Linked DNA regions of Homo sapiens: regions 2, 3, 4 and 5 are each linked to region 1. Evidence: fine-mapped expression QTL. A gene starts in region 1. Each other region holds a variant in brackets. All regions are shown on one strand. Distances are between the middles of the regions.

Region 1 (5,000 bases):
GAGAAAACTAGCAGTGTCAGTTAGAGTTGCTGATGTGACCTGTTTGATTGTTTCTTTGTTGTTTTTGAGAAAAAGACAAATTATTTTGCTAAGGTTCATCTACGAAAGTAAGTTGGAATAAATAATTTCTATAGTTTCTTTGAGATGCAAAGTCTTATGATTACAGGCATATAAGGTGGCTGAAATTCTAACAGCCTATTCTGGGATTTTTTTGTAACTTAAAAAATAATATTTCTGTGAGGCTGAAAAGCTAAGACCAAATTATTGTCCTTTAAAATGTGGGGAAGCCTTCCCTATGAGATTTTCATCAATACACAAGAAATACAAACAGCCAAAACAACTGCAGAAATTTAAAGCCTATAAATTTGCTATTTGTGGGGCTTCTTCTTGCCCATGGAAAAGGTTTGACAGACTGAGAGAAACAAGAGAAAATTACCACTGAGCTGTAACTCTTTCCCTTCAAAGCTGTAACATGAAATGCATACAACCAGAAACTTTAAAACTGCACCTGTGTTACCTGCTGTGTCATATACATTGGTAACACTAATGGTGACAATCAGCTTTATTTTCTGTTGGTTTATCTAAACTACTCTGGAAATGTTACACAAATGTGAGTCAATGAGCAATTTTAAAATGCAACTCTAGGAAAAACTACCTAGTTACTTTTCAGTGTAAGCTCCCACAGTGGAATCTCATTTTTTAAATCCATCAGTTCAAAAAAGGTACCATTTTTTTAGATATATTAAAAGCCAATGCCTACAGACACTTTTAACAGATTAAATGCAGAGTGTGATTATTTACATAGTAAGAACTAGAAAAGAATTTCTAAAATGTTCCTCAGAAGTAAGCATCTTCTAATATATACACATACACACACACACATACACATACGTGTGTATAAAATTTTACATACTTTTTTAAAAACAAGTTTTTTTCCCCTTTTGGAAAGAAAGAAGCACATGTATAACTGAGTATGATTTCCTGTGTCTGAACTCAACCTGCACTGAACTGAACTGTTGCTGCACATTTTTGGGAATCACGATTTGAAATCGGCATACTTCAGGGCACCTTCCTTGAGTGGGTCACAAAACACAACTCCACTTTCTCCACCTCACCTAACCCCATTCTTGCATCTCATCTATACTATCAGGGAGACCACTTCAGTGAGACCACTGAAACCTCAATTCAATGATCAGACTCTTGTCACTCAACAACAGGTCATCTTCTACAGACCAAGTCTGCTCTGCAAAACACAGCATGATCTAAATTCCATTTGCAATTTTTTTCCAAGTATTTGTGTGTGTATGTGTATGTATATATATATGTGTGTGTATATATATATGTGTATATATGTGTATATATATGTATATATGTATATATATGTATATATATATTTGTGTGTGTATGCAAAGTATCAGAAAAATACACACTGAAATGTTAATTGTGGTTATTGCCTGGAGTAGTAGACTTATGTGTAATTTTTTTCTTTTTTTGCTTGTCTACAGCTTCCAACTTTTTCTATATTAAACATAAAAGAAAAATAAGTTACATCCCATATGTGTATTTTTTTACTCTTTCTGATTTCAAAAAGAATTCTGAAAAAAATTCTTTAAAGAAAAAGCAACAAGTACACAAAGATTCCTTTCAAAGTGAGGGCAGTTAGAGACAAGGGCAAGAAGAAGAGCAACATAACCTCAAGAAGCCAAAGGTTAAAACTCACCAGCATGCAAGTGCCAGTGTCATATTTATTGGCTGGAGGGAGGAACACAATTGGCTCTAAGTTTACTGGCTTCCATAGAACATTCCTCCCCATCCTCTTCACCTCACCCCCACCAGCCTTAATTAAGTTTTGTTTAGGGAAAGATGAGAATATTTTTCAGCATTCCCTGAACTCACTCCCACATGAGATCACATGGTTCCTGAAATGTGTTCAGGGAGAAGGAGCTAGCTGCAAACACAACCAATAGAGCCCTAACTATACTAACCCACTGACTCCAGGGGAAAGTGTGTCTGCATACACCAGCTCAGAACCCCCAAAATGGCATTGCTTTAATTTCCTAAAGATGCCTCTCTGTGTGCAATTCACTGCTTATGAAGGCAGTGGCAAAGGACATTCAGTCCATGACAAGACCATATCTGGGAGCTTCTAGGGCCATTTCAAGGCCAAGGCACACTTTAATGGAGAGGTCCCAGAAACAGTGCTTACCATAAGCTGTCATGACTCCAGCGTATGGCCCATCCACCACATTCCTGTTTTCTTCTGCCAGTGCCTTGATGTACCTTTTGCTGAGGTCCAGGATCTGCTCGCGCAGCATGGAGCTGCTTTCAGGCTGAGTTCGCTGCTGGATGGTAAAGTGCAGAAGCATCATACCCCAAATGAAGCCAAAAGTCACCAGGAAAAAGCCCAGCTTCTGAGAGGACAACTTCCACGGAGTGAAGAGAGCCATTGCTCTCTGGCAACTTCACCTGTCCTTGGCTCTTAACGCGTAGAAGATAGACACAAATTCATGGTGTAGGTTGAGTGTGAGAGTCTGCTGGTCTCACTCTGGCTCCTGTGTCAGCTGGTTGCCTTTCCTCACTTCCATTCTGCTGTGAAGGAGGAGAAGAATTAGCCAAGTGGTCATGGCACAATACAGCAAAATAAACCAGAAGCCATGTTTTCACTTGAATACCTCTAAGTAAAATGTCAACTCTTAAATTTGCTGGTTCAATATCTTATGATTCAGGAACTGTAAGCTGAGGGGAAATCTGGCTAGGCAACAAGAAGCTAAGCAATTATGAAGGGGGAAGTGTGCGTCTGCGTGTGTTAACAGGTGTAGTGGGGCTGTTCCAGCCTGGACCAAATTCAAAACAGGAAGTTTGTTTTGCAAGGTGGGGAGGAGACAGAAGGATATTTGGCGGAATGTCAGCAAAAACGGGGAGGGTGGAGTCATATCACCATCAGGCCCTTTTGTGTGCCTGTAACTTAAGCTTACAAAGTCATTATTATGTGCTTCTGGCAAGGACTAGAACATGCAACTGGTGAGGTGAGCAAGAAAGTGGATGCCCCCTTGGGGGTAACTAGACAAAGAAGAGGTAGATTGCTACATCTTATTTGAGCATGGCCAGCTTTCACCATCAGTGTTTAGTGATGAGATGGCTCTCTCAGGGCCACCAGGCAACCTCTCTAGGTGCACCAGCACAGAGAAGATATGCCAGAGGTACAAGCAGGGGTATTGCTTTCCCAGCTACATGAGGAAAAGGTACACCTCACTGCTCACTTGCATGCTGTAGCACAAGAAATGTGGAACACCTGGCAGGCAGATTTTCTGTGGTTCTCACTTTCACTCCCACCATGAGGCAAAATGAGACATTAAAAGGCAGAGTAGTTTCAATATTAATGCAGCCAGATCCTATCTAATGCCAGCACAGACCAGGCCACTCTTCTCAATCAGGGCTTCCCAACAAGTAGGACCTGAGCATAGGTTGCAAATGGTTACCAGCATGCCCACCCCTTCAGCCAGAGTCCTGGGCCCAATACCAGTCAGCTTACGAATAGCGCCATTTTCTAAGTGCCACTCAAGGGAGAGGCTGAGCAATGATCCGATCCCTTATAAGAGACTAACCCAGGCTGTACTTCAGAGTGTACATACATGCTTCAGTCAAAGGATTCTTCTTTGCAAGCGGCCCAAAAGAAAATGGTAGCAGGATCTTGAAGCAATTAGCTTTCAGAGCCCTGGATCACTGTTGGTCTGCCTCTTACTGTTTTCCCATTGCCTATCAACAGAGTAAAAATAAATTATAAATTCTAGCTATATCCCAGATATTGTGACATACCATCTTTTGTGGCTTTGCTCACTGAATCCTCAGAAGTTCTATATGGTAAGAAGTATGAATATTATCGTCTCTGTTTTATTAGAAACATGAGAAAATAAAGGTAAAAGGTGATTAACTTGGCAAAGGTCAGCCAGCTATGTGGCAGAGGACTGATCATCTAGGCATGGCCCAGGGGTTATTAAACCATGCCCCACCTTCCCTACATCATCCTCACTCCCCCAACAGCCTGTTTGTATATGGCAGAGAATGATATATATATGCTTAATGGGTCATGAAAAGCAATAAAAAATATGTAACAGATACTCTTTGTAGCCCAGAAGGCCTAAAATATTTACTATCTACCTCTTAACAGAGAAGGTTTGCCAACCTCTCAATTCTAGACCAGTGGTTCTCCAAATGTGGTCCCAAACTCAGTAACAGCAGCATCACCAGTGAGAAATGTGAATTCTCAGGCCCCACCCACACCCACTGAATCAGCAACTGAGGAGATGTGGTCCACAGCCTATCCTTTAACAAGCCTCGAGGTGATTCTGATGCACACTCATGTTTCAGAGCCCTTGACCAGGCAGCCTGATTCCAGACCCATACATTCCATCACTATTCAACACCCACCACAATGCCTATTAAAATGAGGCTCAACCTCTGTCTTGTACTATCATAACGTAAGTTCCTCTGCCCCATCACACCCCTCTCCCACTACGTACCTGCTGGTCTGCTCATTACCATAAACCCTGCACATGCTTCCTGAGAGGCTTCCCCTTCTTCACTCGGCTGCTCCTCCCACCCAGCTGGCACATGAGTGCTCTCTATTATGCTGACAATCAAACCCAGCCTGTTTGCCAGACCCCAGCTCTAGTCCCACCACCTGCCTCAGACCACTTTCCCCAGGGCTCCAGCCTGCAGTGTTCCTTTCCTAGTCTTACAACACTTCTCTGACAATGGAATACTATTCAACCAGAAAAAGAGAGAGAAATCCTGTCTTTTGCAGCAACAGGGATATACCCGAAGGACATTATGCTAAATGAAATAATCCAGGCACAGAAAGGCAACTACCGTACAATCTCACATGCAGAAGCTAAAAAGTTGCTATCATAGGAGATAACAGAACAGTGGTTACCAGGGGTGGGGAGGAGAGAGGGGGATGAGGAGGGAGTGGTCAATGGGTAAAAAGTTACATTTAGGAG
Region 2 (6,414 bases), 44 kb after region 1:
AAAAGGCAGCAGTGGGGGGCGGGGGGGCTCCCAAGTCTCCCTCACCTGGCTGTGTTTAATACGTTTGCAAAGCCAGTCCAGTATCTGATTGAACACAACTTCACTTCATTTCACCACCTGGGCCACCTATTTATCAACCTGCAAATTCAGCCCAATAGTCCAATTTGTTACCAGCCTGTCATCTGGCTGCCTTTCTTTCCTCTAAGAAAATGAAGTGAGGGGCATGCAAAGTGATGCTTTTACCCAAGTCAGCAGCAAAGACTTCCTGAAAATAAAATGCAAATATCCAAAAGGCCTATGCAGACCTGACTCTTCCAAACAGCAAAACAGTATTTCAATGTCAAGGAGAAGATGAGACAAACATTTTCCCACACGCATCAACTTCAGCAAATCAGCATTCTATGCCCAGTGAAGCTCGGCATTCAAGCTGGCTCACTTACGCCATCACTCAGGAGACAAGCAAGTCTCAAGGTCTTACTGATATCTTCCCTCTCTCTGGAAGATAATAGTTGGATACACTGGAACTGAATAATAGAGGATTATCTCTGGAGAAGTGCAAGAATACAATGAAGAAGAGGGAAACAGACTGAAAGTATGGGGAAATCCAACCTCTTCCCACCATTTTCCATGGAAAACTCGATTCTTGATTTTTCAGGAAGTTGGAGCTGTCCCAAATTTCCAGAGAGCTCTGATTTAACATTTTCCCAAGGCTGGGCAAGAGGCAACCCAAAGATCAAGTTGATCATTTTACGGGGTTTTATGTTGTTATGTTAAAAATAAGCCAGTTCTTATCTCTCAGACCACAGTGCAATCAAACTAGAACTCAGGATTAAGAATCTCACTCAAAGCCGCTCAACTACATGGAAACTGAACAACCTGCTCCTGAATGACTACTGGGTACATAACGAAATGAAGGCAGAAATAAAGATGTTCTTTGAAACCAACGAGAACAAAGACACCACATACCAGAATCTCTGGGACGCATTCAAAGCAGTGTGTAGAGGGAAATTTATAGCACTAAATGCCTACAAGAGAAAGCAGGAAAGATCCAAAATTGACACCCTAACATCACAATTAAAAGAACTAGAAAAGCAAGAGCAAACACATTCAAAAGCTAGCAGAAGGCAAGAAATAACTAAAATCAGAGCAGAACTGAAGGAAATAGAGACACAAAAAACCCTTCAAAAAATCAATGAATCCAGGAGCTGGTTTTTTGAAAGGATCAACAAAATTGATAGACCGCTAGCAAGACTAATAAAGAAAAAAAGAGAGAAGAATCAAATAGACACAATAAAAAATGATAAAGGGGATATCACCACCGATCCCACAGAAATACAAACTACCATCAGAGAATACTACAAACACCTCTACGCAAATAAACTAGAAAATCTAGAAGAAATGGATACATTCCTCGACACATACACTCTCCCAAGACTAAACCAGGAAGAAGTTGAATCTCTGAATAGACCAATAACAGGCTCTGAAATTGTGGCAATAATCAATAGTTTACCAACCAAAAAGAGTCCAGGACCAGATGGATTCACAGCCGAATTCTACCAGAGGTACAAGGAGGAACTGGTACCATTCCTTCTGAAACTATTCCAATCAATAGAAAAAGAGGGAATCCTCCCTAACTCATTTTATGAGGCCAGCATCATTCTGATACCAAAGCCGGGCAGAGACACAACCAAAAAAGAGAATTTTAGACCAATATCCTTGATGAACATTGATGCAAAAATCCTCAATAAAATACTGGCAAACCGAATCCAGCAGCACATCAAAAAGCTTATCCACCATGATCAAGTGGGCTTCATCCCTGGGATGCAAGGCTGGTTCAATATACGCAAATCAATAAATGTAATCCAGCATATAAACAGAGCCAAAGACAAAAACCACATGATTATCTCAATAGATGCAGAAAAAGCCTTTGACAAAATTCAACAACCCTTCATGCTAAAAACTCTCATTAAATTAGGTATTGATGGGACGTATTTCAAAATAATAAGAGCTATCTATGACAAACCCACAGCCAATATCATACTGAATGGGCAAAAACTGGAAGCATTCCCTTTGAAAACTGGTACAAGACAGGGATGCCCTCTCTCACCGCTCCTATTCAACATAGTGTTGGAAGTTCTGGCCAGGGCAATCAGGCAGGAGAAGGAAATAAAGGGTATTCAATTAGGAAAAGAGGAAGTCAAATTGTCCCTGTTTGCAGACGACATGATTGTTTATCTAGAAAACCCCATCGTCTCAGCCCAAAATCTCCTTAAGCTGATAAGCAACTTCAGCAAAGTCTCAGGATACAAAATCAATGTACAAAAATCACAAGCATTCTTATACACCAACAACAGACAAACAGAGAGCCAAATCATGAGTGAACTCCCATTCACAATTGCTTCAAAGAGAATAAAATACCTAGGAATCCAACTTACAAGGGATGTGAAGGACCTCTTCAAGGAGAACTACAAACCACTGCTCAAGGAAATAAAAGAGGACACAAACAAATGGAAGAACATTCCATGCTCATGGGTAGGAAGAATCAATATCGTGAAAATGGCCATACTGCCCAAGGTAATTTACAGATTCAATGCCATCCCCATCAAGCTACCAATGACTTTCTTCACAGAATTGGAAAAAACTACTTTAAAGTTCATATGGAACCAAAAAAGAGCCCGCATCGCCAAGTCAATCCTAAGCCAAAAGAACAAAGCTGGAGGCATCACACTACCTGACTTCAAACTATACTACAAGGCTACAGTAACCAAAACAGCATGGTACTGGTACCAAAACAGAGATATAGATCAATGGAACAGAACAGAGCCCTCAGAAATAATGCCGCATATCCACAACTATCTGATCTTTGACAAACCTGAGAAAAACAAGCAATGGGGAAAGGATTCCCTATTTAATAAATGGTGCTGGGAAAACTGGCTAGCCATATGTAGAAAGCTGAAACTGGATCCCTTCCTTACACCTTATACAAAAATCAATTCAAGATGGATTAAAGATTTAAACGTTAGACCTAAAACCATAAAAACCCTAGAAGAAAACCTAGGCATTACCATTCAGGACATAGGCGTGGGCAAGGACTTCATGTCCAAAACACCAAAAGCAATGGCAACAAAAGCCAAAATTGACAAATGGGATCTAATTAAACTAAAGAGCTTCTGCACCGCAAAAGAAACTACCATCAGAGTGAACAGGCAACCTACAACATGGGAGAAAATTTTCGCAACCTACTCATCTGACAAAGGGCTAATATCCAGAATCTACAATGAACTCAAACAAATTTACAAGAAAAAAACAAACAACCCCATCAAAAAGTGGGCGAAGGACATGAACAGACACTTCTCAAAAGAAGACATTTATGCAGCCAAAAAACACATGAAAAAATGCTCATCATCACTGGCCATCAGAGAAATGCAAATCAAAACCACTATGAGATATCATCTCACACCAGTTAGAATGGCAATCATTAAAAAGTCAGGAAACAACAGGTGCTGGAGAGGATGTGGAGAAATAGGAACACTTTTACACTGTTGGTGGGACTGTAAACTAGTTCAACCATTGTGGAAGTCAGTGTGGCGATTCCTCAGGGATCTAGAACTAGAAATACCATTTGACCCAGCCATCCCATTACTGGGTATATACCCAAATGACTATAAATCATGCTGCTATAAAGACACATGCACACGTATGTTTATTGCGGCATTATTCACAATAGCAAAGACTTGGAACCAACCCAAATGTCCAACAATGATAGACTGGATTAAGAAAATGTGGCACATATACACCATGGAATACTATGCAGCCATAAAAAATGATGAGTTCATGTCCTTTGTAGGGACATGGATGAAATTGGAAACCATCATTCTCAGTAAACTATCGCAAGAACAAAAAACCAAACACCACATATTCTCACTCATAGGTGGGAATTGAACAATGAGATCACATGGACACAGGAAGGGGAATATCACACTCTGGGGACTGTGGTGGGGTCGGGGGAGTGGGGAGGGATAGCATTGGGAGATATACCTAATGCTAGATGACACGTTAGTGGGTGCAGCGCACCAGCATGGCACATGTATACATATGTAACTAACCTGCACAATGTGCACATGTACCCTAAAACTTAGAGTATAATAATAATAATAATTAAAAAATAAAAAAAAAAATAAAAAAAAAAAAAAAAATAAAAAAAAAATAAGCCAGTTCTATATACAATCCCTCTGCCCATCCACCTCCTCATCCCCGGTAAATACACAAAAACAAAAGAGGAAGACAAGTGACTGCAAGTGACACAGGGGAAGTGAGGTCTGGGTCTTCCCATGCACAAGGCCTCCTTCATGCTGAT[G/T]TAACAGAACACCAGGAAACCCTGCTCCCAGAACACTGGGGAAAAACAGACACTGACCACAACACTGGGGCATCTCCTTATTGATTCTCTCGGTTATTTATTTTCCCCAGAGGCTGGGAGTAAGATAATGCTTTCCTAAAACAAAGAATATGGTATAAAAACAAAATTTTTTAGAAGTCCAGCCAAGAAAGGCCACATAGGTGGGTAAGGTAATGTTTTATTAAATGTTTACATTCCCTAGATATTAAGTTTCAGAACTTGTCTAGGCTCTGTTCCCTTGGGCATTTCATACATAAGTAATACAAGTTCTTCCTTAGCTTTTATCCACAAATGGGATAAAGACCATGTTTCTGGTATACATATGCATCTATGTTATTTATATTATAACAACTATAGTAAATAAATGCATGTTTTTGCCTGCTGGGAATAAAGGCATATCCTATCCTCATTTCTCACATATTCTACTTAAAATGTTCCTAAGTAGCTTACCAGCTACTCTCTTATCTGCTGAAACTAACCAAATTCTGGCTGATGGTCAAAGACTATTTCCCTTGGGCACCAAGCTTCCTAAACAGTCAGGATGGTCTAATAAGGTTTTTTCTGAGTGTGGTACATTTACACCGTAGCATACATACTAATAGTTAAGTATTTGTTGCAACATGCATACGCACATCAAATTCATAAGCTGCTATATGCTGTCAATTAGAATGAGACCAAATTAAAATAAATGAGTTGATGCAGGATAAACTGAAGAAAATATGTTAAGTAACAAGTATAGGTGGTAACGTGAATATGGTGGAAACTAAGTCCAAAGTTTGGAAAATACTGGTCTGCTTAAAAAAAAAAAAAGTTCGGCCAAGAGTCTGAAAACTCTGATTCTATGTGCTGTCTTAATGTGTCCTTGGGGATCCTTCACTTATCATCCCTAGGCAGGCCTCACTACAATGATAGCAACAAAGCTGATAGGGTTAGGACAGTGTGACAAATGTGAAAACTTTTGGAAGTAGAACGCAAAGTCTTTTCACCTTCCAATCAGGTGTGACCACTGGCCAGCTGAGAAGCATGGACCTTTAAGTTATGACACACAAACCAACAAGGTATCAGAGTCAATGCTAATCCCTCTCCTTAAAACCTCCCTGAGTTGTGGAAAGTCATCTTGCCAAGCCTCTGGGCAAAGACCTCCTGAGGTTGGCTTGGTGGCAGGCAGGGGGCGGTAGATGGCAAGAGCACAAATGATACATATCACTGCAACCTGGTGTCTGATCTCAATAACACCTCTGCACAAGACCCCTGGTAAGGCAGGGCTTTCCAAGGTCAGGATTTGCCACTAAGCTCTTAAAATCTCTTCTGATCCTAGCAGAAGTAAACGATCAGTATCTCTGGTAAGCAACTGTATTTTTCTTTTTTTTTTTTTTAACCTTTCAGTGTCATTGTGAGGTTTGCCACATGCCTTGAGAAATAAAGCCCAATCTGAATGCTCAAACATGAAAGTCTGGCTGGCTCAGGCAATTGGAAGAAGATACCCATGCATGGTAACCGCTGAATGACAAGTTAGGTTTCCTGGAGAGAAAGACCTAACTATTCACCTTATATACTTAAATAATTGCCTCCTTTTTAAGGCAAAATAACAGCTCCTAAAGATGTCTCTGTCATAGCCCCAGAATCTGAGTATGTTACACCTTACATGGCAAAGGGCAATTAAGGATGCAGATGGAGTTAAGGTAGCTAATCAGCTGACCTTAAGATAATTATCAAGGTGGGTCTAATGCAATCACAGCGTCCTTAAATGCGGAAGAGGGAAGCAGAAGAATCACTATCTAAAAAGTGTCAAAGACTGGCTTGAAGACATAAGAAGCCATGAGTGAAGGAATGTGGACAGACTCTAGAAGCTGGAAGAGTCAAGAAAACAGATTCTAAGAGCCTCCTGAAAGGAACACAGTCCTGCTGACACTGGATTAGCCCAGTGAGACTCTGTATTGGTTCCCTATTGCTGCTATAACAAATTGTCATTAATAATTACCTATACTTAGTGGCTTAAAACAACAGAAAACTCTTCT
Region 3 (6,414 bases), 21 kb before region 1:
GATGTGAGGGGCATCAAGCAAGTCTTAGGGAGACAGAGCTTCAAATGAGACTTGAAAAAAGTGGTAAAGAAGAGTCAGCCAGAACAACAGAAGCATGCCAGGCTGTGGACAAAAACATGTTAAGTGTGTAAGAGCATGAATAAACTGCAGGCAGGGGTTTGGGCTCGTTCCAAGTGGGGCTGAGGCACATTTGGCCACAGTAGTGCTTAAAATGGAGGCAGAAATTTAGCAGTCCTGAGGCTTTGCCCTCCAAACACTCAGGGAGAGAAAAGCTTGAGTCAGGTTTAGGATAGCTCCAGAAAGCCAAACCATGACATGACCAGGGTCTCTAGTAGCCATATGCATTTTATCTGCTCATCTGAAATCTCTTCAGGGACCCTCTCCTATACCATGAATTCCCAGGGGTGACCCATGTGACCCAGGCCTAGCCAATCAGGATGGAACATGATACTGGTCACTCTGACTGGATCATGAATAGGCATAGAGGCCAAGCCAAGCCAATCATGACCCTGCTCTAGAGAGTTGCCAAAACTTCCTGGAAAGCAGCACAGCCGTCTGGGACTGAAAACTAAAACCTAGAGCCTCCTTGGGACCATCCATCTCTGCCCTCACCATGCAAAGATGGCCTAAGAATGAAGGCAAAATAAAAGACAGAACATATTAACATAGCCTTGAAGGACAGCATCACTTCTGAACTGTATTTTCTTCTTAATGATAAAAAGCAAAACCCTCTTGACAACACAAAGTGAAAACTATACCAACAATGAGAAGAATTTTCGGTAAACATACCAAAAGAAATGGCTTCTGACAGTATCCAATACCTGAGAGGACACAGCTGAGGTTCTTAAAGATGGCTCCCATGTCTGAACCTCTCAACAGCATCCCACAAACTTTCAAATGACATGAGCCCCAAGTTCCCTTTTAGTTTAAGTTAATATAAGCTAAGTGGTTGGCCTCTTGCAACCAAGAGATTATTGACAAAACATGAATTTCGTGATGAGCTAAATATTGATAACAGAGGCACAAAAAGATCAATTTGGGAACTTCAAATTTAAAGTGTTCCAGTGAAACACTATATACAAAATTATTTTCTAATCTATAAAGCACTATACACATATTAATTTCACTATTAGTGGTGATATCCAAATAAGAAGTCACTACAGTGTTCCATTTTTATGTCAATATTCCAAATATGTAACTTTTAAACTGTAATTAACAAATGCTCATACAGTACTGACTTTATGCCAAGCATGTTTCTAAGAACGTTATTGGTCTCACCTAATCCTCCTGACATGGTTTGGCTCTGTGTCCCTACCCAAATCTCATCTCAAATTTTAATCCCATGTCAGGGGAGGGAGCTGGTGGGAGGTGAATGGATTATGGGGGCAGTTTCCCTCATGCTGTTCTCATGGTAGTGAGTTCTCAGGAGAGCAGATGATTTTAAAGTGTGGCACTTCCTTGCTCTCTCGCTCGCTCTCTCCTGTCGCCATGTAAGACGTGCCTTCCTTCCCCTTCCACTATGATTCAAGTTTCCTGATGCCTCCCCAGCCATGTGGAACTCTGAGTCAGTTAAACCTCCTTTCTTTATAAATTACCCAGTCTCAGGTAGTATCTTTATAGCACTGTAAAAATGGACTAATATACCTCCTAACAATACTGTGAAATGGACACTACTATTATTTCCCCCATTTTACAAATGGGGAAACTCAGCCAGAGGAAGGCTAAGAAACTTACCCAAAGTCACACTGCTATGAAGTGGTGGAGCCAGTATTTGAACCGAGCCAGTCTGGTTCCACAGATGCTGCCTTTCATTGTCCCTCATCCCCTCAACACTAGCATCAAAGTTTCAACTGCCTTTAAACCGATATTCTGAAACAAATGGCTTGTGGCTACAGTCCTCATGGAACCTTGTCTCTCTGCTGGGTTGTTTCCTCAATAATGAGTCACCCAGCTATCCTTCAAGCTACACCCTTGGAAATAATTATGACAAATTCTCCCTTGCCCTGTCCCACGGTCTGTCCGTGTCCCCATAACACCAGCTTCACCCTAACGTGGGTCTCAAATTCTTTCTCCCTGGGCCATAGGAACATCTCTAACCCAGGGCATTCTCCTCCTAACTGAAGATTAAATGCAGTCTCTCTCACCCATTCATATGCATTTCACTCCACATGGCCCATAATTATTCTCTGGAAATACAGACCTCACACCTATTCATCCTCCTACTTTAAACCTCTCATCAACTGCCACGGCCCAGGGAACAAAATAGAAACTCCTTCATTTAACATTGAAAATGCATCACAAATCCCAATTAACTCTCTAGTCTCATTTTCTTCAATATTGCTCCAAGTATGCTGTCAAGGGTATTTTCTGATGTAAAGTAGATCTTTGGGGACCTGTCTTGTTTTCTTTAACTTATTTAATTTACTCTCTCATATCTTGATAATTATATACTTTGCTTAAAATAACAAAGAATTTCTTCTAAAACATTCTGCAATTTAAACCCATTCTCTAAGACTACTTTGTACCATTGTTATCCGGAATTAGTGGTCCTTTCACGAGAAGAAATAATTACCTTCTATAGAAGCAGAAGTAAAATGTACATTGCCAAAAGCACACTGTGGGCCAGGAAAGGAGTTCCTTAAGGGCAGGATCCTAAAATAGTCTTCTGGGAGTTTCTAAAATCTCTTTCCTTGGAGGCCTCCAAGACCAGTGGCAAAGCTAAATGAGGTGGAGATTGGCGGGCGGCGGGGGTGGGGGGGCTTGTGAACAGCCTTGCTAGGAAAAGGGAAAGGAACTTTAGGTCTCAGCTGGCAATCAGGAAACTTCAGCGTCTCAGGCGTCTTTCTGCACTAACCATAGGTGAAAATATCTGCTGGCACCAGATTCTAACAGTATCTCATAGATCGGAATTTCACAAACCTGCCACAATTGACATTTGGGGCTGGATACTTCTATTATGGGCAGTGTCTTATATATTGTAGGATGCTTTTTGCAGCATCTCTTGTCCTCATCTATTAGAAATAAATAGGCCAGTCACAGTGGCTCATGCTTGTAATCCCAGCACTTTGGGAGGCTGAGGTGGGAGGATCGTTTGAGCCTAGGAGCCCAACCAGCCTGGGCAACATAGCAAGACCCCATTCTCTACAAAAAATAAGAAAAAAGAATTTGCCGGGCATGATGGCACATTGCCTGTAGTCCCAGCTACTCAGAAGGCTGAGGCGGCAGGGGGTGGGGACATGGAAGGTCGAGGCTGCAAAGAGCTGTGATAGTGCCACTGCATTCTGGCCTGAGCAACAGAGCGAGACTGTCTCAAAAAAAAAAAAAAAAAAAAAAAA[AG/G]GAAATAGCACCTCTTCATTTGTGAAAACCAAAATGTGTCCTGACATTGACATGTGTCCCCTGGGGGCAAAATCGCCCACAGCTGTTAATCACTGCTATAAATTCACTTCCTCAAAGATCACCATCACTTCTGAACTGTCTTTCTTCTTCTAAATAAAAACAAAATATCCTTGACCACACAAAGTGAAAACCATACCAACAAAGACAAGCATTTTTCTGTAAAGATACCAAAAGAATAGCTTCTGACAAGGGTCCACATATTTATTGTTACCATTGCAAATAACAAAACAGAAAGTGACAGGTAGATAGACAGAACATATTTGCTTCTTGCTCAACTTAATAGGAAGCCACCTGCAATCTCATCTCTCTCCCGTCTCTCAGTAGCATCTGGGATCTCACTGACATACCAGTATCTGACCCTGGGAAAGTCATCTGCTGAGCCACTGCCCAGGGGTGGAGCTGGGACACTTCAGGTGCTACTTCAACACAAACTGATGACATGGGTACACATACAAGGAAAGAGCACAGGTACAACTAAATTTCAAGGTCCATTAGCAGCACAAAGAGGGGGAAATTGCACTTCCAAATGCAAGCCCTGGAACTCAGCAGGGACATTTTTCATTTTCAACTTTCAAATGGTAAGAATAATAATAATGGTTGCTGTTTTTAAGAACAGCTTCCAAATTCAAATACATTGCACTTCAACCCCAAATACTAGAAAGTGTTGCATATCGCTCCCCACTTTGGAAAAAATGCAGGGTTGCTGTAAGTTCAACTTGGATTAAATACCAGGAAACTGTCGCTTGAGTTATACCTGTACCTTTGATTTTGTGGTTCTGCTTCCCAAGTGACCTTGCAATTATTAAGTCATCACAACACCACTTGGATGCTATCATTATGGTTTTGGCTTTTAAGGAACAGTCAGCACTGGCCAGTTATTCAGCTGACCTTGAATGACAACTCTTTATTGAGAGTATAAATAAATGTGTACACATGCACATACATACACTACCCCGTAGAGAGCTACACAATGTTCTTGTCCTCTAAAGTATCACAATCTAGGATTGTAACTATCACATCTAGGATTGTAACTATCACATCCTATGAAGCCTCCACATCCCATAACCATTGATGGGAAGTTCAGTCCTGACCAACAAAAAAGGCAGTCCCACTTCTTAGGCGGTGTCTGCTAAGGTCTGAGAACTAGGGAAACGAAATACCAAGTCCGACTTCTAGGCAAATCACCACAAATGTAAATTGAGAAGAAGAACTATAAGAAGAAACTCTTCCAGGTGGTGAAACCAAATGCTGTTCCCTCCAATAGAAACCAATCCATGTGAGCAATATTTACTGAATTATCTTCAACAGGTAAGGCTACAATCAAGACACTATGGGCAGAACAAAGATATATCAGACATTCAGTCCTTAGAAGGCAAGCATTTTCATGATCAGATATGTATACTTTTTACCTTTTCCCCATTTCAGGTACATGACAAAGAACCACAGATCCAATCCTATTCGCTCCACTTCCTCACTTAAGATCACAAAACTAGAGAAAGACAGAATGGGTCTTTCTAAAATTCAAAGCATCATTCTAAAAGGAGAGAATTTTGACGAAGGCCCTTCAAGCCCTTTCAGAAAGTGAATATGGAGAAATTAATTTACTGTGTGATTGGTGGAAGGGTGGGGATTTTAAAAATCTGCTTTTTCATTCCTTTGAGTCCCCTTTCTCTTCAACAAGACAAACAGAGCTCAAAAATCCAGTTCAATCTGATTTCTTGATTTTAATAAAGCTCATTTCCACCTAAATTTCCCTAGGGGCAAATTTACTTTCACATTAAAAAACCCTCGGTGATAAATTTGTGAAGATAAGCCATACTGGATAAAAGCTACACAGAACACAGCTAGAGAGAAAAAATAAGGAGACACACAGACACACACACACACACACACACAGAGCTATCCCCCTAAAGAAAATAAATTTAGGGAATCCTTCTTCAATTGCTATGGTACCCAATTTAGAGACAGTTTATAGCCAACCAGAAGATATATTAGCAAGCAATAAGACACAACAATAAGCAATCAGAAACATCAGTGAGCAATAAGACACCAGAGTCAGCTGTAAAGACACACCAGGGAGAACATTTCTGAGCAATTACCGCATGTCTCCATTCAGGAAGGGAGAGAGAAAAACTTTACTTGGCGAGGATTGGAACCCCATAAAACTGAACTCTCACAGCTCAGGAGCCATTCTTGGGTTGACAGAGGGGTCTGAAGACATCAGCATGGTTATGGATCAGAGAGAGGGCAGAAAAGCAAGGAAGGGCTGCTCATAAATGAGAACTGTTCACTTAAGTCCTTGTCCTTCTTTCTGGTACTCTATAGACATGGCAAATCGTTTTTTAAAAATATGTAGTTGACTGACAAGATATAAAGGACCCCCCCCCACCTTCTGGGGGAAATGAAGAAGGCTGTCCAGCATATCTATATCCACTTTGGCCAAGACAGTGTCTATGAAAGGGATGCCTCTGCATGCATGCACGCGCACGCGCGCGCGCACACACACACAGACACACACACACATACACGGGCCAGCTTTTACAAACATTAGCCTGAGAGCAGACACTGAGACAGAGAAATCCTTAATGAGACAGATGATTAAATCTAGGAAACTGGCAGCTCTCTTCTAGGTAAGAAAATGGTAGCATCTTTTTACAGACACATGCCTTTATGATAATTTACAAATGGAAGGAGAGATGGAGTTAACACTCAGAATCTCTTCTCTACATAGCACTAGCAGATCTGAAGCTGAGCTCAGGGGACTCCAGTACCAACAGTCACCCACTCCCAAGTACTTAAACTCAACAAAACCTGTGAAAACCCTTCTCAGAGATGCTAAGAAGATTAAGTAAAATCATGTACATTGGAGGGTCAGGCAGAGGAACTTGTATTTACTGGACAGCTACTAAATGTTAGTTTCCTCTCCTTCCCTGCCTCCCAATTTTTTTCTGAGTCACCCCCACTTTACAGCAACCATGGTTTGTGTCATTTTATGCATGTGTATTCTTTTCCTAATTA
Region 4 (6,414 bases), 71 kb before region 1:
CTGAAAACTCAAGGGAAAGCTCAAAGCCACATAGGGAAGTGGTGGGATCCAGACAGCAAATCAGGTCTTGTGTGTTTCCTCTAACACTGTACTGCTGCCCCCTGACAAGACAGGGAGGAATATTATTAACACAAAGTACAGAACTGGCTACCTGCAAGAGACAGAGTACAGGGCCAGAGGGATCCATGAGAGTTCTGCTCAGCATATCAGGGGTGAGGGGGGGTGCAGAATTTAAAGGGATGTTGTAGTAAGTGTTCAGTGTGCCACAAAACCAGTGGGGTTCTAACAAGAGGATAAGACACTTTCAATAATCCATCCCAAATTGCTCTAAGAGGAGAAAGGCCAATTTTCCCTTATACATGAGAAGCAGCAAATAAATTCCTCTGTAGCCAACCAAACAGATAATGCATAGAGATACTTTCTATAGCAACTCTCACTAGGCACAGCTCCCACTGGATGCTGGCAAAACTGGTCCCAACTGGTCTGTATCCACATAAGGACATTTTGACAACTAAAGTCACTCAATTTTAAGAGGTAGTCATATTTTAGGCAACAATGATATAGCTCTTTTTTTGTGTTTAATGTGCAATTATGCTAAGTGACAATGAAAATAAAAAATGGGCAAGAAAGCTGTGCCTTCTAATACAATTGGCTCATTCCATTCTAACAGTCTATCTGAGCCCTTGTATGTTCTCATAATATTACAGAGCATTACAGTAGTCCTCTCTTATCCACGGCTTCACTTTCTAATATTTCAGCTACCCACAGTCAACTGCAGTCTGAAAATATTAAATAAAAAATTCCAGAAATAAACAATTCAAAAGTTTTAAATTGCGCAATGCTCTTAGTAGCTGATGAAACCTTGTGATTCCTGCTCCATCATGCCCAGGGCTGGAACAGCTCCTTTGTCCAGGGGATCCATGATATAGACACAACCCACTCACATTAGTCACTTAGTAGCCTTTATGTTACCAGATCAACTGTCTCAGTATCTCAGTGCCTGTGTTCAATAAACCCTCATTTTGCTTAATAGCAGCCCCAAAGCTCAAGAGTAATGATGCTGGCAATTCAGATATGCCAAAGAGAAGCCATAACATTGTGAAGAAGAAAAAAGTATAGTATATGGAGGGTTCGGTACCACCCTCAGTTTCAGGTACCACTGGGTCTTAAAATATATCCCTCATGGATAAGAGAGGACTACTGTATATTAAATGTGTTAATCAGTGCTCAAAACGCCCCTGCTTCATGTCTCAACTCAAATGTCTTAGCGGATTTTAATGTTACAAAGTTTACAACATTTTTTTTAAGATCGGAAGGGTTAGAGCTAGAAGTTACCCACTCAAAACAAAAAACTATAGCCAATTTTAAAAAATGCTTCAGATAGAACCATTCATTCAATAAACCCATGTGCCAGACATCATTGTACGTGAGAACAAAACAGACAAAACTCTCTGTGGAGATGACTTTGCTTGTACTTGTTGTTAACATTAGGTGTTAATGGTCACTCCAGGGCGACTGCACTTCTCTTCCCACTGCCTGCTAAACACCTGTCAGATATCTGCACTTCTTACTCCCTCACTTTCTTCAAATATGGTCCAACATCATTTTCTCACCTTCTCAGTAGGGCCTATCCTGACCACTCTATCCAAAACTGACACCATCACTTCTCATAAGTACTTCTTGCCCTCTCTTTAGTATTTCTCCCCAGGCATGCACTACAATCTAGATGATACATCTTACTTTTTTGATGTTGCTAGCTATCTCTCCTTACATAACACAACCATAATGAGGAGTGTTTATTCATTGTTACATCTCCAGCAGCCAGAAAAAAATCAATAGCAATTAATGCTCTTGGCACTCAGGTTGTGGCCCCTAAGCATTATTTCTAAGGAAACTGGGGTGGTATGCAGGCCGGGGGAGCAAGATGGTTCTTAGAGATGCTGGTTCCAGGCCTAGGGCAGGAACTGTATGAGATGAATCTGGAAGATCTTGGCATACCACAGAACAAGAAAACTATTACAAACTACCATGGTCATGTCAAAAGGTCTGAGAAAGCAGTATGAATAGGTCCTCACTGGCCAAAGCGGGGCAACTTGACAATCAGTAAGAAAATAACTGCAATGGATTGTTCAAATGTTTTAATCCATTACTACATAACGATAATAAAAAACAAAAAGCAAGCAAGCAAAAAGAAGAAAAGCTGGAAATTCTAGGAAATGAACTGGGAAATAAATGGTTTCTTCTATGAATTTCCTCTTAGGGTGATCACATACCTGATGAAGAGTCACATCTCTGCACAGAAGTATTCCTGATATATTAAGAAGGTACCTTTAATGAATTAATGAACCTGGGCACTGATCAATGATTGCTAACATCAAAAAAAAAAAAAAAAGAGAGAGAGAGAGAAAGAGAAATCAGGCATTATGTGCCTCCCAACTCAAGTATATAATACCATTATCCATGAAATAACTTGCACAAACAATATTAGGCACTATTCTGATCAAACCTCAGAGCTAGCTATCACTTTACTGGAAATACAAGGGGGCAAAGAGCCAGGTTATGCAACAACATGGGCTGTAACCAAAATTCAGAGTAAGACAAACTCTAAGGCAATGAAGCAGTTTCTCTAACAAAAAATTAGAAGGAGGAAAAGTAAGAGACGGAAGAGAACCTAAAATGAAGAGAGATTTAGGAGACATCAACAATTGCAATTTAGGGTCCTTACTGGAAACCCAGTTCAAATAAATAAACTTTAATTTATACAATGGCCTGAAAATGTGAATACTAATCTGATGTGAAGGAATTATGTTAATTTTCAGGTGTGAAATAGTATTAGCAGTTATAATGAGAATAGTTGTACAGTATGTTTTAAAAGTCTCTTTTAGAGATACACATTGAAACAGATGATATGATGCTTGAGATTTGTCCTAAAATAATGAAGCAGAGGAGGTTATAAATGAAATGAGACCGGCTATGGATTGACAATTGTTGAATATGGATCACGGGCACACAGGAGTTTGTTAAACTCTTTTGTAGTACATGCTGGAAATTTTGCATATTAAAAAGTTTAAAACATAATTTTAAAAGTATTTTTAGGGTCATACAATAGAAATTACATGAGACGATATTTAAATGTGTATAAAAAACAAATTGGAGATGACAGCATTGAAGCCCCATCCTGCCACATGTGTTCCAAGAAGCAGTCAAAGAAGTGTTGATTTGGGTTTTGGCAAGTCTTGTCCTTTGCCCTTCTGA[T/G]TTTTGTAGAGTGGAGGCCAGAACAAGAAGTCTAAATATAAATGTTGTGGTATATAACATTCATAAACAGGAAGTGTTGCTAAGAACTTTAGTGGGTGAGGGGCTAAAGGGAGAAACTAACAGATCAGTTAGGCTGACTAACAAATACTGTTCTGTAAACTCAGGATTTTTTTTTTTTTAAATTCTTTTACTAAGGATGTCTTAGAACTCAGGTAGTAAGAGCAACAAATATATACAGATGAAAAAGATACCAATAAAGGCTGAACAGAGAAGGTGAAAAGAACATGATCATAAATCTCTGCCACCTCCTTTACTGCCCAGAAATATTATCTTGAGGAAAAGGAATTTCCCATTTCAAATGGCTGAACATTTGAAGGGTGTGTGTTGGTATTCTCGGGCAACAATCCGGTGATATTTTTAAAGTACTCCCTGACCCACCCCAAAACGTTAGTTGTTTTTACATTCAGGTTTTGTCCTGTAACCTAAGCAGTCTATTCTTTATCACTGCCCACTTTGACAAATTAGTCTGTGCAACACCATTTCCAAGTTATCTTTAGCAGCCAACACAGCTCATAAATCCAAATCATTGTACTGGTTATTAGGATTTCATTTCATGCTCGCATTCACAAACATTTAAGCTTTCAACCTTTCCTGTTGGGCATTAATCTTAGCATTAATCAAGGGATTAAGTATGCTGAATTTAAACTCAAGGTTAATTACATGCTCAGCCAATATTAGTTTTACATACTGCCAAGGGAGAACAGAAAGAAGCAAAGACCTTTACGTCTGTTGTTTATGAAATATAAGAACTAGATTGACAAGTAAGGCATGAAACTGCTTCTTTTGCTCCTTTGTGAAAGAGTCATAGACACACTCTCATGCATCTAGTCCAAATTGGCATTTGAAGCAATAGCTTGCACACATCCTAAGATCTAGCAATCAATCACTGGGCAATTTGATTATTTCAGAGCAACTCTACTTGCAATGGCAACAGAAGTGCATACAAGAAAAGCATAAACAAATTAGGAACTCTGGAAAGGTATGATGCTTCCTAGGTTCTGTAACAACTGTTTAAAAAGAAAAAAAAGTGCCAGTGTCAAATACATCAGTATCATCTATCAACATAATATCAACAGAGATGAAGAAATTCATTCTAAATTTTGTAAAAGCTGATAGCAGTAAAAGGCTCTGCAGATGGTTAAGTTAATATACCTGAAACAATGACATTCAGAGTAATTACTTTATAGGGCCCTGTCTCTGTAATGGGAGTAGTTACATGGCTCACGAAAACAGATACAGAAAATGAACTGCCTGATGTTCTGGAAATACAAGGCTGCCTAATGAATCATTTGCTCATTCCTACCACTTGGAATGGCTGACACCTGGTTTTCATGAGTTATGGCAGCAAGAGAGTTTGTGTTTTTTTGGAGGCGTAGGGTATCGAAATTATGGAGTATTAGACAACTAGCAATGAAGATCTATTCATTCAAGTTAGCTAAATTAGAGCCATTTTCCCATCACAAGTGGATTTAACCATACAACTGAATGCAAAGTCAATGGCTGCAAGTTAGCTACCTAAGATCCGTTTTCCTTCATCATAAAGGAGACAGCAGGAACAAAAAGTGCAGGACTTTGGGGATAAGCGACTTGACCTCTCTGAGCTATCTATGACTTGGCTCTCCATTACTCTTTAGAGTTGGCAAGAGGTTTAAATAAGATTGTGTATAGCTGACCCACAGTATCTGTTGGGGACTGGTTTCAAGACCCCTGTGGATATTAAAATCCTCAGATGCTGAAGTCACTTAAATAAAATGGAGTTATTCTGTATTTGAGGTGTCTGGTACAGTGGAGCATCAATAGTCTTTCATTCTTCTCTTGTCTGCCCCAAAGTCCCACCTCTAAAGAAAGGCAACCACTCAGCTTTTATCTCTACCATCTCTAGTACAGCGTCAGACATATAACAAACAGCTGTGGGGGTATTTTAAGGAAAAATATTGATGGCTTTTCTTCCTGGGATTTAACCAAAAAAGATCCATAGACTACAAGTTGGTGAGGGTGAAAGTACTAACAGAAGTTTCTAATCCCATAACTCAGCGGAAGCTGGTGAACTGAGACAACCCTAAGAAAGAAAAATGAAGGAAGAGTACCATCTCTTAAGACAGGTCTGAATCTAAATGCTCCAATTCCACTAGTGACTGACTATACAAGAGACATTTTACTTCATGTCCTTTTGGCATCTGTTAAAGCTCTGATGTTAAACATAGATCAAAACAAGAACTGGCTCTTTCAATAAGGATTAGGAATAGAATAAAAGTCACTGGTGCATGTGTTGATCACATTAACAACTCAAATGAAGATGTCTCTCTCAATCATCTCCCCAGTTGCAAGAGAAACCTAGATGATACAGGAAATAAAAACGCAGGTTTCAGAGTTAACTTAAATAACAGAATAAGGAAAGTTTCAAGACAGCAGGAAAGAATAAAACCACACAAGTGAACCAACAGCTCCTACAAAGCCACAGATATTGTCCAGGATTTTAAAAATACTAAAAAGGAATTAATCGGTTTTACAAAACATCTCTACTAATCTCACATTAACAATGGTAGGGTGCACTGGGTCCATACGTGCAGCTAATTCCAGTGCAAACCCAAGTATCATGTCCAGAAATGACCAATCAAGGGAAAATACTCTCACCACAAATAAATATGTATGTGAAGTAATGCACATGTTAATTAGCTTGATTTAGCCATTCCACAATGCAGACCCATATCAAAACACCAAGTTGTATACCATGAATACATACAAACGTTGTCAATTTAAAAATAGGCATTAAGGGAAACAGCTGAATTTCTATATTACCAGAAGTCAAAGGATCTAAAATTGCATTACACTGGTAAATGAGAACCAGAAATTGATTCTAATTCTAAAATGGAACAATGTTCCCACATATAATGTCCAAGGCAAAGTGACACCCCACAACTATTCCAAAAAGATCACAACATTTAAAACCACGGAAGTGTCAGTTATGCTTATTGAGTGTCTTTTATCTGCCGGGTTGTACTCTAAGTACATTCCTATTATTTCATAAAGGAAGAATCCTAGGCACAAAAGGTTAAGTGACCTCATAGAGCTGAGAAAGCAGCAGAAACAGAAGCTGAT
Region 5 (6,414 bases), 120 kb after region 1:
CAGAGATCCTACAGACTGAATCACTAACTCTTAGCGAGTAAATTTGGTGAATTTCTTGCTTTCTCAAGCCAAAAAAAAAAGGGCAATGATAGAAGAACAGCTTCTTAATAAAATTATGTTAGGTATCTCACTTTAAAAATTAGGCCTAGGTCAGACTCACCTCTATAATCCCAGGACTTTGGGAGGCTGAGGTGGGAAGATCACTTGATCCCACGAGTTTGAGACCAGTGACCAGTGACCAGCGCCACTGCCCTCTAGCCTGGGCAAGAGAGCAAGACTCTGTCTCAAAACAAAAAAAAAAAAAACAGGCCTAATTGTGCCAACAATCTTGAACACAAATCTGTAATATCAATCAGTGACTCAGAAAGCAACATAACTTTGCTATTTCCATTTGCAAAAAAAAAAAAGAAAAGAAAGGCGAGATGCTATCCCTTCATTGATAAACTTGTTAAATACAAATACATTATCTTTAAACAGTAAGAATATAATGTAATGTAACTGCCTCAATAATAAAACTGACCAATAACATAGAAAAATGAAGCAGAAAAAAAAAATAGAGACTATTCTAGTCCAAGCTTCAGCGTTAATATTTTTTTAAACAAAGAACGAAAAATTATTATTCCCATTATCTTTTCATATGGTTATCCGAGGGATTTGTGTTGAATACAAGAAATCCCTCCCCGCTCTGACTTCTAAAGAAACAGGAAGGAAATGTTCAGCATTTTCATGCTCTAAATATAGCTACAAGTGGAAAGAGATGCCCATGGCAGCACAGCAATGACTTCAAGTCTGCAGCCTGACGAGGTGCAGTACAATAAGCTCTTCTGTGGACAGAGTCATTTCCTATCAAGAGAAGTTTCCAGAAACAGAAAAGGGCTGACTCCACTCTCAGAAATCCAGGTACAGCAGCGGCAGAGCACCCTCTGGGCTGGACTCACTGAGTGGCAAGCGGGAAGCCAAGAGGAAGTGCATTCCTATGGCGCTGACTACCTCCAAGCCAAGCCCCAATTCCTAGGGGATGCCCCTCTGTCCAAAGCCATACGCCAACAGGAAAACACCCCTGGCAACCATGTGCACAACATATTTCTTGGGCAGAGACCTATTTCTTAGAGTGCTGTTGTCGATGATATAACCTTAAAGCATACCAAGAGGAAAACAGGGGGTTAATGTGTATTTAGGGCATTTTCCTGCAGAATGTCTGTGGGTTTTCTCCACTTGAAAAACTGAAACTGAAGCTGAAATCAGACTTCTGTTTAGGATTCAGATAATTAGGACATTTGGCTTTAAATGAATCACATACCTTGTAGTGACAGATATGGCCTTGCTAGAGGAACGTTCTGACAAACTTGCCTCCCTGGATATGATAAACCAGTGAGCCAAGAATAGAGCTCAATTCTTTGACCAGGTCTAAGATAAAAAGTTGGAGATAAGCCCACACCCACTCTACAAACGCACCTGACAGCCTTGGAGAAAGCCCAAGTCAGGAGGAGGTCAACTCTTGATGAAGAGGAGGGAAAGGGGAGCAGTGGGTGTGCAGGGTCTAGAACACACCACAATTCTACTGTACCCCTTGGCAAACTAGGGGCAGCCTATGGACTCCTTCTCAGAAAGACTTTTTTAATGCATAAAATAAAATACACAGGACTGCAGAGGAAATCAATGATATTGAAATACTGTTACCAAAATATTTTTTATATTTATTTATTTATTTTATTTATTCATGTATTTTGAGACAGAGTCTCACCCTGTTGCCCAGGCTGGAGTGCAGTGGTGCAATCTCAGCTCACTGCAACCTTTGCCTCTGGGATTCAAGTGATTCTCCTGCCTCAGCCACCCTAGTAGCTGGGATTACAGGCACCCGCCACCACGCTCAGCTAATTTTTTATTTTTGGTAAGAGACAGGATTTTGCCATGTTGGCCATGCTGGTCTCAAACTCCTGGCCTCAAGTGGTCCGCCCACCTCGGCCTCCCAAAGTGCTGGTATTACAGGCATGAGCCACCGCGTCTGGCCCCCCAATTTTTTTTTTAATTGGTAAATGGCAATACCTGCAGCTTGTATCTTAACACATTAAATAATACTATCTAGCAACAGGTGCAACAACCACCGTAATTTCAAAGTGGTGATGAATACTGGTATTTCAACACACCTGTTAATCATCTCTAATGTGACATGAAAATATTAGATTTCTATTGGTGACAAAGTCACAAACAGCACTAATACTACTGTGACTTATGTCCAACCTTCCAAAGTGAAAGAATTGCCAAATTTTGGCTAGAAGTTAGGGAAAATGAAAGTGTAATATTTTCCCATGCAAGTTCACAGGTTTCCCTGAAACCTTGTGCAGTTATGAAACTCATGTGACAACCTAATTTTACCTTCCATTCCTGCAGTTTTTCCAGAATAATGCAGAGACCTACACGGGAGCCATGGCCCAGCAAGAGCCAAAAACTACCTGTATGCATGGGAGGGTGGAGGTTGTACAACAAGGACAGTCCACCACCCATGGCTGTGGCTCGGGGAGGAGCACTATGGGACCAATATCTCTATTTCTGCTATACCCCACATGTGGGCCAAGGTTTCTTTTTTTTTTTTTTTTTTTTTTTTGAGATGGAGTCTCACTCTGTTGCCAGGCTAGAGTGCAGTGGCGCGATCTCGGCTCACTGCAACCTCCATCTCCCGGGTTCAAGCAATTCTCCTGCCTCTGCCTCCCAAGTAGCTGGGACTACAGGCACGTACCACTATGCCCAGCTAATTTTTGTATTTTTAGTAGAGACAGGGTTTCACCATGTTGGCCAGGATGGTCTCAATCTCTTGACCTCGTGATCCGCCCGCCTCTGCCTCCCAAAGTGCTGGGATTACAGGTGTGAGCCACCGCACCAGGCTGGTTTGCTTT[C/T]TTTAAAAATGCTTCACATTAAAAGTATTAATTCAGCTGAATCATTAGTCTAGAGAAAAAACATTACTTTACAATTCATTTCCCCTAGTGCAATGTTCTAAACCCTATCAGTCCCAAAGCCCCTGGGGCTTACAGTGAACTTATAACACTCTCTTTACTATCTGAACCAAATGCTCAGATAACCTACCTAAACACAATTTCAAACATATACATTTAATGTCCTAAGATTGACAGAAAAGACAATAAAGGAAAGTAATTTATGACAAATCTAATGTATTTCAATATGCAATTAGCTGGGCCAGACCACTCTAAAAGACATAATGGAGCCATTAGATGCCTTCATTTTAATGTGAAATTTTTAAAATGTGTCATGTCAGCTACAAAGATGGACTGATACAGGTGATGTGCTAATTCTACAGGTAACATGAGTTTCCAAAATGGTAAATTTCCTAACAAAAGAAAGCACAACCTTTCTTCATTAACTGGAAACGTCGATGTTTACTTAAAATGTGCAACGATTATTTGCTTATACCTAAGTTAGGTCTAGGTTCAGATTTTGCTTGTCCATGATTGTCTAGTGGGTAACAGGAAACATTTTGTGATACACAACTGTGCTACCCATTACAGATGTTTAGCATCCCTGGTCCCCAACCAATAAATGCTAGTAGCTCTCCTCAATCACTGACAATCAAAATTGCCCCCCCAAATTGCTGATATGCCCCCAATAACATTGTAGGGCCTGGGACTAGACCAGAGTCCTCTCTCCAGGTACCACGCCCTGCCCACCCCTGGGTGATCTCAAGCTGGGCACTGAGGGAAAACCAGAACTGGCATTACAAAAGAAAGATCAGCCTTATTGTGTGGCTTACACCCTGTAACAAATCCCCTTACTCAGAGTTCTGCCCTTGGGACAGGAAAAGCAGAATAGGCAGGGAGGAGAATTAAGCAGCCAGACACATGGAAGCAGAAAGGAGAGCAACAAGGATTTGTGGGGTTCCTAGAGCCTCGATCCCAGGCTGCAGGGGGCTCCTGGACCCTATTCCTGTGTTCCTAATGTGAGTTCTCTCCTTCCACTGAAGCAAGGTCTGGCAGGTTTCTGTTGCTAGCACCCAGAAGAATCTTTATTAATTAAAGGCATCCAACCACCTAGAAGGACAGCCATCCATCTGAACAAAGGGCAGCAGCTAACATCAAAAACGCTTAGGAGTGAAACCATCCCCACAGGGTTGATAAGAATTGCATGCCAGGTTCTGGACTGAAATATGGTTACAATGAAGCACTAGTCAGGCTGCACCTTGGCCCGCTTCCCTGTTGCTAAAAGTCACATAGCACTAGATAGTGGCCATTTGCATCCCCATTGTTCCTATGAGTAGGATTTCTGATATTGGGGTCCTAAGACAGTTTAGGAATTGATTTGCATCCCCATTGTTCCTATAGACAGGATCTCTGACAGTAGTATCATAAGGTCTTTTTTTTAAAGGATGGCTTAAAATGTTTTCAGACCCTGAATGCCAACAACCAGTTTGAAGACCCCCACAGAGGAACGGATCAGCATGAGAATGCAGGTGGTTCACCTCCCTGTCCCATGTTCACCCTGCATTTTTCGACCAATCAACAACCGCCAAGCCTGCCCCTTTCCAAAACCCTTAAAAACTCTAACCCAAACTCCTCAGAGAGATGGATTTGAGGTTTCCTCCCCTCTCATTCGGTGGCCCTTTGATTAAACCTTTCTCTGCTGCAACCCAGTTTCTCTACATATTGACTTGATGTGTGCAATGAATCTATTAAGATTACAGGATAACCTATTCTAATGTCAATAAAAGGACCCTATTTGGGGGATTTTTCTCAGATTTTACCTAAGCTCTTCATGCTGTAGTTTAAGCTCATTTATTTTGATTCCATTCTCACTGACAATAAATAAATGGGCCAGGGACCATCCTTCACCTGGCATTTCAGATTCTACAAAGACATATCCAGATCCCTCTGAAGTTTTTCTGCCTCAGCTCTTTCTCATCAATCCCATGAGCCATGCAACATAAATAACAATGTTGTCCTTTCTTGACAGGCTTGGAAAAATGAAGGTATTGGAGAAATTTGGCCTTTAAGGAGCCAATTAAATCTGAGTTTTAAAAAAATTCCAAAGTCTTTTCAACCACAGAAGTCCATGATTTAATGTCTCTAAATTTTATTCTGCTCAGATATAATACCACCCTAATTCAGAAATGTGGCAATAAGGCCCAGCTGCCAGAAAGGTGGTGTAAGAGAAGCTAGGATCACTGTTTCTTTGCCTTTCCCACTAATGGACTCCATTATATCACCAAAAAAGGCACTGCCGGGATCTAATGAATAAATAACTAGCACTTGAATGGAATTTGTGCCCATTTTAATTCCAGTTAGTTTCCACTAGAAAGCCTTATTTAAAAATAAATTAAGAAGGGGGGGCATAACACTACTTATAATGAAACAATTTAGAAATGCTTGAAAAGTTTCCTATATAAGCCAATCGGGTGTAATGTTAGATGGCAAGGACCTAATTGTTGATTCCAAGTAAACAGAGAAGGGTGAGTTTTCACATCTGCCACATGTGTTCACTGTCATTTCTACAAGGGTATGAGGAGACCAAAGGGTCACTTGAACAGGGTCTTCCAAACAGAAGGTCACAACTAACTGATGGGTTATGAAATCCATTCAGTGCAAAGGTCAGAAAACTTTTTCTTCTCGGGCCAGAGAGTAAATACTTGAGACTTTGTAGGCCAGGTCATCTCTTATCAGTCACAACCACTGGCCTCTGCCATTGTAGTGTGAAAGTAGCCATAAACAACAGAAGAACAAATGGGATTGGGTATGTGCCAATAAAACTTTATTTACAAAATAGGCAGCCAGTCACGTGCCGCCTGACCTCTGACCAAAATTTTTTAAGACAATGAAATAGGACAAAATAGAAAACACCAGAGGCCACGATAAAGGTTAAGTACTTTTTATGAAACTTTTCTTACTGTTACCTACTTCCATATGTGAGCTCTGATTCAGCATGTATTTCTTACTCCAGGGTGGGGTCAAAAGCCACCATATTACAAGATAAACAGTTTCAGAAAGGAAAACTAGTCTGTTTCTGAGTGTAATTGGTAAAAATATAAAGGATTTTAATGGTTTTCTAAAAAGGGAAAAAGGGGCAGATACAATGGCCAAGTTCTTGAACTTAAGTACAATCTTAAAAGAATATTAGTTACAAGTAACTAACAAAAAGATTTTTAAAAGGACACTAAAATTACTTTCTACACTATTCAAACATCTGATACGAGCTGTGCATCAGTTAACCACTGCTCTATAGCAAACTTACCCCAAACTCAGTGGCTTACAACAACCATGGATGATTTACACATCTCTACAGGTCAGCCAGTGGGTGATTCAGGTAACCCTGGCCGACCTAGACCTGCTCAGGAGACAGCACACAGCTGACAGGTCAGATGGCATTGGCTGGTCTATGATGAAATCGGCAAGCACAAACCTGGCCCCCTCC

Direction of the effects. Positions count from the first base shown, and alleles are read on the strand shown. Sizes are in standard deviations (SD) of each study's normalised expression. Not every link is listed here.
With allele G in place of AG in region 3, the expression in Th17 cells of the gene that starts at base 2,779 in region 1 is lower (large effect, 1.1 SD a copy in Schmiedel 2018).

What was found.
Region 2: its variant is fine-mapped to the expression of MGAT5 in whole blood (TOPMed, PIP above 0.99).
Region 3: its variant is fine-mapped to the expression of MGAT5 in Th17 cells (Schmiedel 2018, PIP 0.95).
Region 4: its variant is fine-mapped to the expression of MGAT5 in whole blood (TOPMed, PIP above 0.99).
Region 5: its variant is fine-mapped to the expression of MGAT5 in whole blood (INTERVAL, PIP 0.92).

The regions. Positions count from the first base shown.
Region 1 is chr2:134,251,851-134,256,850 of GRCh38, reverse strand. MGAT5 (alpha-1,6-mannosylglycoprotein 6-beta-N-acetylglucosaminyltransferase) reads right to left here and starts at 2,779. Exons shown (of 16, transcript NM_002410.5): 1 at 2,207-2,779. The coding sequence starts at 2,447.
Region 2 is chr2:134,206,935-134,213,348 of GRCh38, reverse strand. It overlaps a transcript of MGAT5 not described here. Among named protein-coding and RNA genes, the nearest start is that of MGAT5, 44 kb to the left of the region's middle. The variant G/T (reference allele first, on the strand shown) is at 4,358.
Region 3 is chr2:134,272,501-134,278,914 of GRCh38, reverse strand. All of the region lies in intron 2 of MGAT5 (alpha-1,6-mannosylglycoprotein 6-beta-N-acetylglucosaminyltransferase), which reads right to left. Among named protein-coding and RNA genes, the nearest start is that of MGAT5, 22 kb to the right of the region's middle. The variant AG/G (reference allele first, on the strand shown) is at 3,336.
Region 4 is chr2:134,322,031-134,328,444 of GRCh38, reverse strand. The region is part of intron 4 of MGAT5 (alpha-1,6-mannosylglycoprotein 6-beta-N-acetylglucosaminyltransferase); the gene reads right to left. Among named protein-coding and RNA genes, the nearest start is that of MGAT5, 71 kb to the right of the region's middle. The variant T/G (reference allele first, on the strand shown) is at 3,256.
Region 5 is chr2:134,131,882-134,138,295 of GRCh38, reverse strand. It overlaps a transcript of MGAT5 not described here. Among named protein-coding and RNA genes, the nearest start is that of MIR3679, 8.0 kb to the right of the region's middle. RefSeq lists enhancers at 3,269-3,438, 3,460-4,081, 4,082-4,704. The variant C/T (reference allele first, on the strand shown) is at 2,895.